Linked DNA regions of Homo sapiens. The protein of the gene in region 2 purifies or fractionates together with the protein of the main gene of each other region. This does not show direct contact. Each region holds a gene or a part of one and is shown on either strand. Other genes may lie near its edges. The genes, in order: ME1, ASB9 and PRPSAP1.

Evidence for each region.
Region 1: the proteins of ASB9 (region 2) and ME1 purify together in Homo sapiens (co-immunoprecipitation; one large-scale study listed by IntAct). This does not show direct contact.
Region 3: the proteins of ASB9 (region 2) and PRPSAP1 purify together in Homo sapiens (affinity purification with mass spectrometry, with the first as the bait; one large-scale study listed by BioGRID). This does not show direct contact.

Annotation. Positions count from the first base shown.
Region 1 is NC_000006.12:83,224,916-83,228,569, forward strand, and holds part of ME1 (NADP-dependent malic enzyme), read right to left. Parts: intron 2,563-3,654; coding exon 2,420-2,562; intron 1-2,419. UniProt on the Homo sapiens protein: Catalyzes the oxidative decarboxylation of (S)-malate in the presence of NADP(+) and divalent metal ions, and decarboxylation of oxaloacetate.
Region 2 is NC_000023.11:15,246,037-15,249,690, forward strand, and holds part of ASB9 (ankyrin repeat and SOCS box protein 9), read right to left. Parts: intron 2,900-3,654; coding exon 2,708-2,899; coding exon of another isoform or gene 2,679-2,707; exon of another isoform or gene 2,647-2,678; intron 1-2,646. UniProt on the Homo sapiens protein: Substrate-recognition component of a cullin-5-RING E3 ubiquitin-protein ligase complex (ECS complex, also named CRL5 complex), which mediates the ubiquitination and subsequent proteasomal degradation of target proteins.
Region 3 is NC_000017.11:76,326,412-76,330,065, forward strand, and holds part of PRPSAP1 (phosphoribosyl pyrophosphate synthase-associated protein 1), read right to left. Parts: coding exon 3,632-3,654; intron 2,452-3,631; coding exon 2,306-2,451; intron 1-2,305. UniProt on the Homo sapiens protein: Seems to play a negative regulatory role in 5-phosphoribose 1-diphosphate synthesis.

The DNA.
Region 1 (3,654 bases), on a different chromosome or scaffold from region 2:
ACTTGGCTGGGCGCGGTGGCTCACGCCTGTAATCCCAGCACTTTGGGAGGTCGAGGAGGGTGGATGACTTGAGGTCAGGAGTTGGAGACCAGCCTGGCCAACATGGTGAAAGCCCATCTCTACTAAAAATACAAAAATTAGCTGGGTGTGGTGGTGGGCACCTGTAATCCCAGCTACTCAGGAAGCTGAGGCAGGAGAACTGCTTGAAACTGGGAGGCGGAGGTTGCAGTGAGCCGAGATCGTGCCATTCATTGCACTCCAGCCTGGGTGACAGAGCGAGACTCCATCTCAAAAAAAAAAAAAAAAAAAAAAAAAGGCATTAACTAGGGCCTGTTAGGTGCTGCATTTCATATTGCTAATCAAAAGAACATTTGTCTGTGATGGTGAGAGTGGACATCTAGTTGAGAGTATTTAGGCTTCAAAGTAGGAATCAGAAACCCTAAACAAATAAAGCATCACAGTCTAAGAAATCTATTTGAAAAGTCTAAAGCATCAAATCCCCAAGGCATAGTTTAAACGATGACAGAATGGGTTTTAACTTTCATATCTCTTGGATCTAGAGTCTAAATAATGATATTAATATTAACCTATTTTTAGCAAATGTCATAATATACCTTTTAGTTGTTCTTAAAGTTGTATAACAGAAATTCAACCTTCTTTGAGAGACAAAAAGATGAAAATAGATGAGGCAGAAAAACAAATTCTCATCTAGCTGTTTATAAGACACTGTTATGTTTTGCACAGAATTCGGTTTTGTTTTCAGACAAGTCTGATACCTTAAGCTCTTTAGCAGATAAAACATTTTGTTATAAACAACTTTCTAATGTAACTAAATTATTACTTCATATATAAAGGTTTTGGAAAATTATATTTGAGAAAGAGGCCTGTAACATTATATATATATATATATATATATATATATCTCCCCCACTCCTGCACTCCCACTCTTCCTGCCTTTCTATAATCACCATATTTTAAGGAGAAATGTCATTAAATAAATGACAGTACTGTAGCTAGCTAAATATTCTCATATATATATGTTATTAACATGGTGAAGGGAACCTTCCCATACCATTTTTAGATTATATTTTTATGGTTCAATAGTCTTTCTGTATATTGTAACTTAACCTTTCCTATCTTCACCTGTGCCTACAGTAGCAGAAACTCACATCCAGCAACAGGCAGACCTTTCCTTTTTCTCCAATCCTTTAGCCAAACCAGTGTCTAAATTTTCATCCTCAAAATAACTTTCAATGTTTTATGTAGAAAAACATAGAACATTAGGCAAGATGATAAGAAAGAGTTGAGGCATACATTTATATCAGACACATTCAAAGTTTAAAATACAACTACATAAATTTGGCTAATTTTGTTTATGTGTGTTATAGATAAGTCTCTTAACCCTTGAGGCCTGTTGAGATATATTAAGACAAAATAATTAATTAAACACTTGTTTATTATATGCCTAGTAGGTGCAAGGCATGATGCTAAGACTTGGTTGTTGCTGAAAGGACTTTTTTTTCCTTTAAGGATTTAAGGACTACTGAATAATGTGAGGCAAATTCCCCAATCTAGAGATGAGATAAAAATTAAAATCAGTGAGAACACTGATGCCATCCCAAATAAGAGAGATAAACAATGGAGTGGCTCCTTGCCAAAAAGAAAAATCACTAATTCTAGTATTGAGCATTTAAGGATATATGATTAAAATAGAGCCATTAAGTTCCAGTTAATGCAGAGTGACATAGCGTTCATGTTTACCTCTCTAGTTCATTTTGGATTTCTTTCCAAAATAAACATTTTAGATAGATATGACTCAACCTCTATTTTGTTGTAATGATATTTTAAAGTCTTTGAAGGGAAAAAAGGCTCCTTTCAGCATATCAGCCAAATACATATTAGTACAAACATGGTATAAAATAAATCATAGTAAAATGTTGAAGCATTGAGGACTCCTATCCCAGTCTGGCTGGATGTCAAGATAGTTGCCCAAATGTTCCACCCATAGTACCAAAACCCAAACCCAGGATTTAGCAAAGCAAAAATAAGGTTGTGGTTTTACATTGTATGCTTCAGTGTTTGGGAATAGCTAGTTAAAAGCTATTTTAATAAGCCTCTAGAACCAAGCTGCTTCCTTTCTATTTAACTTTTATGTTTAAATCTTAGATATCTATTTCCAAATCACTTGTGGAAAATTATCAGTAAAACATTAAAATATGTATTTTATTTTGTTGAAGAAGAGGATTTATACAACATTCTAGAAAAGGAAATAGTTCTTATCCCTCTGATTTGTGTGCTTTTCTTTCCATTTTGGTTGTATAATTTTTAAACTTAAACAGTAAGCACCTTAGATATCCTAGGCCTCCCTATAATGAATAAAAATTTGATTATTAAAATATCTGTTATAGTTTTACTTTACCTTGGTTATTTTGTAGCACTGCTCTGCAGAACATTCTGCTTTGCTAGTTGGATTACTCAAAGCAAAAATAATAGGCCGTTCATTGAAGGCAGCCATATCTTTGAGAATTTGTTCTGAGAATGCACCACCAATTGCAGCAACTCCTAATGAAGAAATATGAAGCTGGTAATTAACACTATCATTGGTTAATTCACACAAGAAGACCATGCCTCAAATCAATGATATCTATCAGCTCATTTTCTAATAGACCCTAAACAAAATGCTATATAAACTATTTGTATTCAAGTATAGTGACAAAAAGAGGCAAGTTTGTTAATGCCAACAATCCTTACAATCCTTAGGGTCACAAATCTACAAATATCTATTAAAAACTAAAGATAATATTTGGCTTCCATAGTACATTGAGTTAGTTACCAATCACTTGGAAATTTGTATCTAATGTGTAAACTTTCTTTATAAGCAATTCTATGAGTATATTTCAGTCTTGTCAGGCTACAAAGCAATTAAGTTTTATAAACCAACGCTATCACTTAAGACAACCATCTGATTCATCTGCAAAAGTAAAGTACCACCCACTGAAGTAACTTTAACAGAAGAATAAAGCAATTAGCATAATGGAAATGAAAAACAATAAGATTATTGACAGAATATATTTTGTAAAAACAATATTAAACACTTAGTAAAGTTCCTGTCATGGAGTAAGTACTTCTTTTATTGTAGTTATCATCATTATTTTCAACGTTGTCATCTGTTTCACAAGAGCTTGTAGGAATGGAGTATAATACAAGGTAAAAATCAAAATTATATATGCACAAAATAAAGAATAAAGTTTCATAAATTCCTTTGAGTTTTCTAAAACCACTTTAAAGTCTTGCACTGCACATGCATTGTGTAAGTACTGTATTAAGTGCTATAAGGAAAATAAAGATTTGTGAGATGTGATCCCTGTCTTCCAGGAGGGTCTTATCTACTGCAGTATTTCTCAACCTCAGCACTATTGACATTTTAGGCTGGATAATTCCTTGTCGCAGGGGCTGTCCAGTGCACTACAGGATATTTAGTAGAATCATTCCGCTGCCTCTATCTGCTAGATGTCAGTAGCCCCTCCCTTTACTCCCTTCCAACCCCGCTACCCTAGTTAAGACAACTCAAAGCTTCCAGACATTGCCAAATGTTTCCTGCAGGGCAAAAATCCCTCTTATTTGAGAACCACTGTCTATCTGGAGTAATCAAGC
Region 2 (3,654 bases):
CACACTGTGGGGAAACTGAACCTAATCTAACCTCACTAAGGAATGTTGAAACATGTGACTGATCATCTGTGCTAGAAACGCTGTCAGAGGCAACCGTAGGAGGTACTGATAAAGCATTACAAATAACAAGATCTCAGAGCAGGCCTGATAGAGAATTAAGAAAAGTGGGATGTCACAGGAAACTCAGTGTATTAATAACTACTGATGCCAACTGAATGCTGCTGTTTACTACAAGTAAGACAATGTAAAACAACTGTAGCTTCAAGTCCATAGACACAGAGCTGAAAACCCACTACAGATTTGCAGTCACTTGCTGGCACCTGCAAATATTCAAGGGGTTTGCTTTGCTCGGTAATAAAACCAGCTAATTGTGTATTTATGAATTGGCATATTCCTTTGGGCCTTGATTTCTTTTTTCCCCCAGCAACAACCATTGATGTTTTGTTTTTTGTTTTTTGAGACTGAGTCTCACTCTGTCGCCCAGGCTGGAGTGCAGTGGTGTGATCTCAGCTCACTGCAAGCTCCACTTCCCAGGTTCACACCATTCTCCTGCCTCAGCCTCCCGAGTACCTGGGACTACAGGTGCCTGCCACCACGCCCGGCTAATTTTTTTTGTATTTTTAGAAGAGACGGGGTTTCACCGTGTTAGCCAGGATGGTCTCTATCTCCTGAACTCATGATCCACCCACCTTGGCCTCCCAAAGTGTGGAGATTACAGGCGTGAGCCACCGTGCCCGGCCAGCAACAACCATTGATGTTTTAAAGCCAAAGTGCACTGGGTGAGGGGGGATGGGGGCTGCGGTCATGTTGGGCTGACAGTCATTTCTAGGTTTTAATTGAGCAAACACTGCTTTAGATGCTTATCAAGGGTGAGGTGGCAATATTCTTAAAATCTTTTCCCTTTTCTCAGAAAACGGGAAAATCTTACCTTTCCTAACACCCACGCAAAGCCCAATTCAGAACATGGTTGGGTTTTACCAACATTCTCCTGTTGCCATACCATTGAAAGAGGACAGTAATTGAATAAATTCCCTTCCCCAGGAAACGGAGAAACAGGTGGACTGAAGCAAATGAATGTAGGGGCACCCAGAGACAGAAACTGCTGTGAGCAATCCACAGGTCTAGTTTTCTGCACTTTCCTGACCCCATTTCTTGTGGGCTCCGAGCCCTCTGAGAGGTGACTACACCAAAACCCCAAAATTGACTCATGGAGGCAAAACAAGTAGTGATTCTCTCCAGCAGCAAATGACACCTCATAAACTAGTGGGACCATAGGCCACACTGTCACCGTGCAAAACGTAAATTCAAAATTAAAGTAATTACTGTCTCTAGGAATGGCTTTGGGAAATAAAGCAGAAGGGAAAAGCCAGGGGAGGCAATTTGAGAATGCTATGAGGTTGTTTGATGGAGGAGGGGACATATACATCCTACATTAACGTATGCCCTACGTTATGACTGAGGGGGACCTGAGGCACTTTTGCCTTTATGAATCCCTTTCTCAGTGAAAACAATTAAAAATTCTATTTCACAACTGTGTTGGTATAAAGATGATTACAATCCATGTTGTTCTATTCATTTTTTATTCTGATTGTTTAAAAATTAAGATATTTTTATGGGCCTCGTAGACATAGAACTTTTTCAAAACAAGTAATTATTAAAATGCAGATAGAACTGCTCCATGATTATCCCACTGCTTAACTGTAAGGGGCCTCTACTGGACTGTTCCTTGTCCAGGCCTGGAGTCAATCTTTTCTGCCTGACCAGCACTGCTCAGGAGCATAGGCCTTGTTTGGCATGCCCCCAGGCAGGGACTTGACTGCAAGTACCCTGGGGCAGTGAGAGTAGGAGGAAGAAGGATTCCTTAGCCCACTTTACAGTTCTGCCCAAAGCCAACCTTACTGCTCATCATGTGGGGAGAAAATAACTAGATTGTATAACATCAGAATCCTTCTGGTAGGAAGGCCTGCTTCAAAGTCCCAGAATCCCTAAGACTTCAGAGTCCATACTCCGGTAAGAAAAGAAGTACTGAGCTGGTTTCTCAACTGCCTCTGAGCCCATGAAGATTGCAAGAGGTGGCTCCCCAACTTGAGGTGTCTTTGTTCCCCAGCCCAGCCCAGGCCTCAAAGCCCTACTTCCATACACACTGCTCAACCACAATATTTCATTGTTCGAGTTGGGAGTCTCAGTTCTTACTTATAGAGAAGTGTGGACTTATCATTGGTTAATTTATAATAGTAAATATCTTTGGATTGGTGTGAACCCTAAACTCTTAAACAGCTGCATTTTAAGCCCAGAAACGAAGTGTCCAGTAGTCTGGCCCATCTGTGGTTCAACAAGATATCCTGCGGCCTCTTACAACCCCAAAGAGGACTCTGCTGCCTCATTCTAAAGCATGTTTTAAATAAATGTAATACTAAAATTTTAAAACAGTATCTTAATTTTTAAAAAACTGGCCTACCCCATAATGAATATTAGATCATCCCAAAAACCTGTATCCAATATGCTAAATAGCAGGACAGTTATTTACTGTACTGTGACCAGTACTGTATCTCATTGAATATTGAATTATCTCAACTTCCCAGATTTGGTGATGTCAGAGAATGATCTTTTTATAGGAATGGGAGCCAGAAATTGCCAAATACCTGCCTTCTACTAGAGCCCCAAGGGATGTCAACAGATTAGGGCTTAGGTTTTGGCAAAGAAGCACCTTCTCTCTCCAAGAAGAGCTGGGCCAAGGGGCTCTCTGGAGGCACCAGCTCCACAGGACGTTTGCCTTCAGCATTCTTGGCCTGGGTGTCCGCTCCAAAATCCATGAGCAGGCAGGCCAGCTCTTCACTGGCTGTCCTGGCCACTGCATGAAGTGGGGAATCCTGACCTTTCCCTTGGTTCACGTCCGCTCCTAAACAGTCACGAGAACAAAAAAGAGTCAGCAAGGAGCAGAATCCAACCATCGGGGCTTTTCAAAGCCCCGAGCCCCAAAATTTCCTAACAAGAGGGGATCCATATTGAGCACAGCAATCCTGGAAAAATGGGAGATGATGTGATTCCATTTAATAATGTGGGGAAAATCCCACCTGATAATGTTATTGAATGTACAGCATGAGGAATATAGCATAGAAAGTTAAAAATTTGCCTTTCAGCACTGTACATAGATAGGCATGATGCATATAAGAAAAATCCTAGTGACATAAAAGCTCCACATTATTATTAATGGAACCTAAGTATTAGCCAGTACAGCCTGACGGAGAGACTAGATGGTGAAATCCAGCCTACACCAAGCAGCCAAACTCACCTGGTGTGCAGCTGCCACAGGGTGTAAAACTGGACACTTGGGACTGGTGATTTGGACTTTGAAAAGCAACCAACCAACTCATGGGGGTATCCCCTGGATTGGACTGGCCAATCCCAAGATCACAGGGAAGGTGGCAAAGTTCTCCCTTTCAGGAGTAAGGTGGATTTCTAGGACTGTCCCCACCCAATTCCACTCTTACACTCTTAACAAATCCCCACCCCAGCCCAGAGCCTAGCTTTCACTGTGACATGTGGGAACATGTGGCTTTGCCTGAGCTGCCATCCCTCTGGTAAAATGAAAATCTATGTCCACTCAACAAATGTTAACTGATCTGGTCTTGTATTGTTCCTGACTTTGTGAGG
Region 3 (3,654 bases), on a different chromosome or scaffold from region 2:
GTAACTTTACAGTGGAGAAACCTGCCAGAGAAACCTTAACCAACTTATCAGAATGCACATCACCAGTAATGGGACACATCATGTGTTTCCTGTGATTTTCTGCCAAAAATGCATAACCTGAATCTAATCCTGAGGACACAAACAAGCCCCAATTAAGGGAGAGTCTACAAAATCACTTGATCGCACTGTTCAAAAGTATCAAGGTCATAAGAAACAAAGAATAAAGCAGCCACTCCAGATTAAATGAGACTAAAAAGAAATGACAACTAAATGCAATGTGTGACCCTGGGTTAGGTCTTGAACAAGAAAACAAGTTTATTCTTTTGCTCTAAAGGACACTGCTGGGACCACTGGTGAAACCTGAGTAAGGTCTGTAGATTACAGTGTTACAGCAATGTTAGCTTCCTGAGTCTGATAATGATACTCTGGTTATATAAGAGTCTTTTGTCTTTACAAATATACACGAAGGTATTTAGGAATGAAGGGACATTACGTCTGCAACTCACCCTCAAATGGTGGAAAAAAAAAAACCCCATGTATATAAATGTTAAATTTGGGGACTCCGAGTGAAGAGCATATGCTGGAAATCTGTACTATTCTTTCAACTTTAAGTCTAAAGTCAGTTGAAAATAAAAAGCTAAAAATGCAGATTACGGCTTGGCACGGTGGCTCACACCTGTAATCCCAGCACACTGGGAGGTCGAGGCAGGCGGATGACCTAAGGTTAGCAGCTCGAGACCAGCCTGACCAACATGGTAAAACCCTGTCTCTACTAAAAATACAAAAATTAGCTGGGTGTGGTGGTGTGTGCCTGAAGTCACAGCTACTTGGGAGGCTGAGACAGGAGAACTGCTTGAACCCAAGAGGCGGAGGCTGCAGTGAGCCAAGATCATGCCACTGCACTCCAGCCTGGGCGACAGAACGAGTTCAGTCTCAAACAAAATAAAAATAAATAAAAATAGGCCGGGCACGGTGGCTCACACCTGTAATCCCAGCACTTTGGGAGGCTGAGGCAGGCGGATCACAATGTCAAGAGATCGAGACCATCCTGGCCAACATGGTGAAAGCTCATCTCTACTAAAAATACAAAAATTAGCTCGGCGTGTTGGCGCGCACCTATAGCCCCAGCCACTGGAGAGGCTGAGGCAGGAGAATTGCTTGAACCCGGGAGGAAGAGGTTGCAGTGAGCCAAGATTGCACCACTGCACTCCAGCCTGGCGACAGAGTGAGACTCCATCTCAAAATAAATAAATAAGTAAAAATAAAAGTTACCTGATCCCCAAAGCCTGGTATTTGATCAACAGCTGTCACCCAGCTTATGATAATGTAAAAGCTTAAGATTTCACACCATCACACATACAACTTTTTTACTGAAGCTAAAATTATCAAACACCGTCTGAATGCTGAGTGCTACGCAGAACCGTCCATACACAGTCTACAAATGTGTATAACACAACTTCCTTTTACAAAAGAGGAAATCGGGCCTGGCATGGGGCTCATGTCTGTAATCTTATGTAATCTCGGCATTTTGGGAGACCATGACAGGAGGATTGTTTGAGCAAAGAAGTTCAAAACCAGCCTGGGCAATGCAGGGAGCCCCGTCTCCATACAAAAAGAAAAAAAAAGGAACAGAAAACTATCCAGGCATGGTAGTGTACCCCTACAGTCCCAGCTACCCAGGAGGCGGAGGTGGGAGAATCACTTGCGCCCCGGTCAAGGCTGCAGTGAGCCATGACTGTGCCACTGTACAGAGCAACAGGGGGAGATCCTTTCTCAAAAAAAAAAAAAAAAAGGCGGAGGATAGCAAATACCATTCCATTATTAAAAAACAACAAGACAGCATATATCTACATAGTCGATAACTCCTAGCCATTCATACTACTTAAAACTTTCTTCAGGGCCAGGTGCAGTGGCTCATGCCTGTAATCCCAGCACTCTGGGAGGCTGAGGCGAGCAGATCACCAGGTCTGGAGCAGATCACGAGGTCTGGAGTTTGAGACCAGCCTGGCCAACATGGTGAAACCCTGTCTCTACTAAAAATACAAAAATTAGCTGGGCGTGGTGGCACACACCTGTAATCTTTGCCACTCACGAGGCTGAGGCAGGAGAATTGCTTGAACCCAGGAGGCAGAGGTTGCAGTCAGCCAAGATCACGCCACTGCACTCTAGCCTGGGTGACAGAGTGAGACTCCATCTCAAAAACAAAACAAAACAAAACAAAACAACAACAACAAAACCAACAAAACCAACAAAAAAAAACTTTCTTCAATTTACAAATAAAATAAAAACACAGAGCTCATCTTACATGGCAACTCCAGGCCTGGGTGCACAGTAGCATTTTTGACCATAGGCGGGGAGTGACGACCATCGTCCATGTCCAGTTCCGTGCACTGAGCTTCCCCGTGAATGACGGCCAAACCCAGACGCAGTCTCTCCGCATAGGACTGGGCCCTAGAAGGACAAAGGGAAATGGTGAAACTGACAGGAAGAAATCCCACGCATCACTACGGCATCATTTTTTAACCATAAAATGAAAATATTTAACGTTTCAGGGACATACAAAGGCATTATTTATATAAATGAGAATGTGAGGCCCAGGCCAGCATGTAAATGACTCAAAGGGCACGTGAGTTAGGGTTTGGGATTGTATCTGATTCTAGACATTTTTTTTTTTTTTTGAGACAAGGTCTCACTGTCACCCAGGCTGGAGTGCAGTGGCGTCAACATGGCTCACTGCAGCCTCAACCTCCTGAGGCTCAGGTGATCCTCCCACCTCAACCTCCCGAGTAGCGGGGACCACAGGCATGTGTTGCCACAACTGGCTATTTTTTGTATTTTGTAGAGACGGGGTCTATGTTGCCCAGGCTGGTCTTGAACCCCTGGGCTCAAGCGATCTCCCGCTTTGGCCTCCCAAAGTGCTGGAATTACAGGCGTGAGCCACCCCGCCTGGCCCTGATTCTAGATAATTTTGATTCTATCCTTTGTCCAATATTCTGATAGTCATCTTCAGAAGAAAGAACAACGTTAAAAACCATTGCCTGGGCCGGGCACAGTGGCTTACGCCTGTAAACCCAGCACTTTGGGAGACCAAGGCAGACAGATCACTTGAGGTCAGGAGTTCAAGACTAGTCTGATGAACATGGTGAAACCCCATCTCTACTAAAAATACAAAAAACTAGCCAGGAGTGGTGACAGGCGCCTGTAATCCCAGCTACTGGGGAGGCTGAGGCAGGAGAGCTGCTTGAACCCAGGAGGCGGAGGTTGCAGTGAGCCGAGATCGCGCCATTGCACTCCAGCCTAGGTGACAGAATGAAACTCCATTTCAAAAAAAAAACAAAAAAAAAAACCATTGCTTGAAAAATGCTCATAGCCTCATTGCTTTCCTTTCTCTGAGAACTTGAAGGAACTTTGTTTTCCCAGAGGAAAGCTGAGCAACTCAGCGATCATGTGTGCTGTCTGGAGGCTGGAGATAAAGCTGTGTGTGGCATGGGACATGACAACGATGGAGGGGTTAACATGAGAGCCAGTGGGCTTTCAAAGGCCACGAGTGACAGCCTCTGGATTCCAAAGCAGCTCATTCTGACTTCGGGAGCACTCAGGAGGGATCAGGACCCATGTCTAGCTTACTTACCTCTTTGCAGCATCAGGAGACTT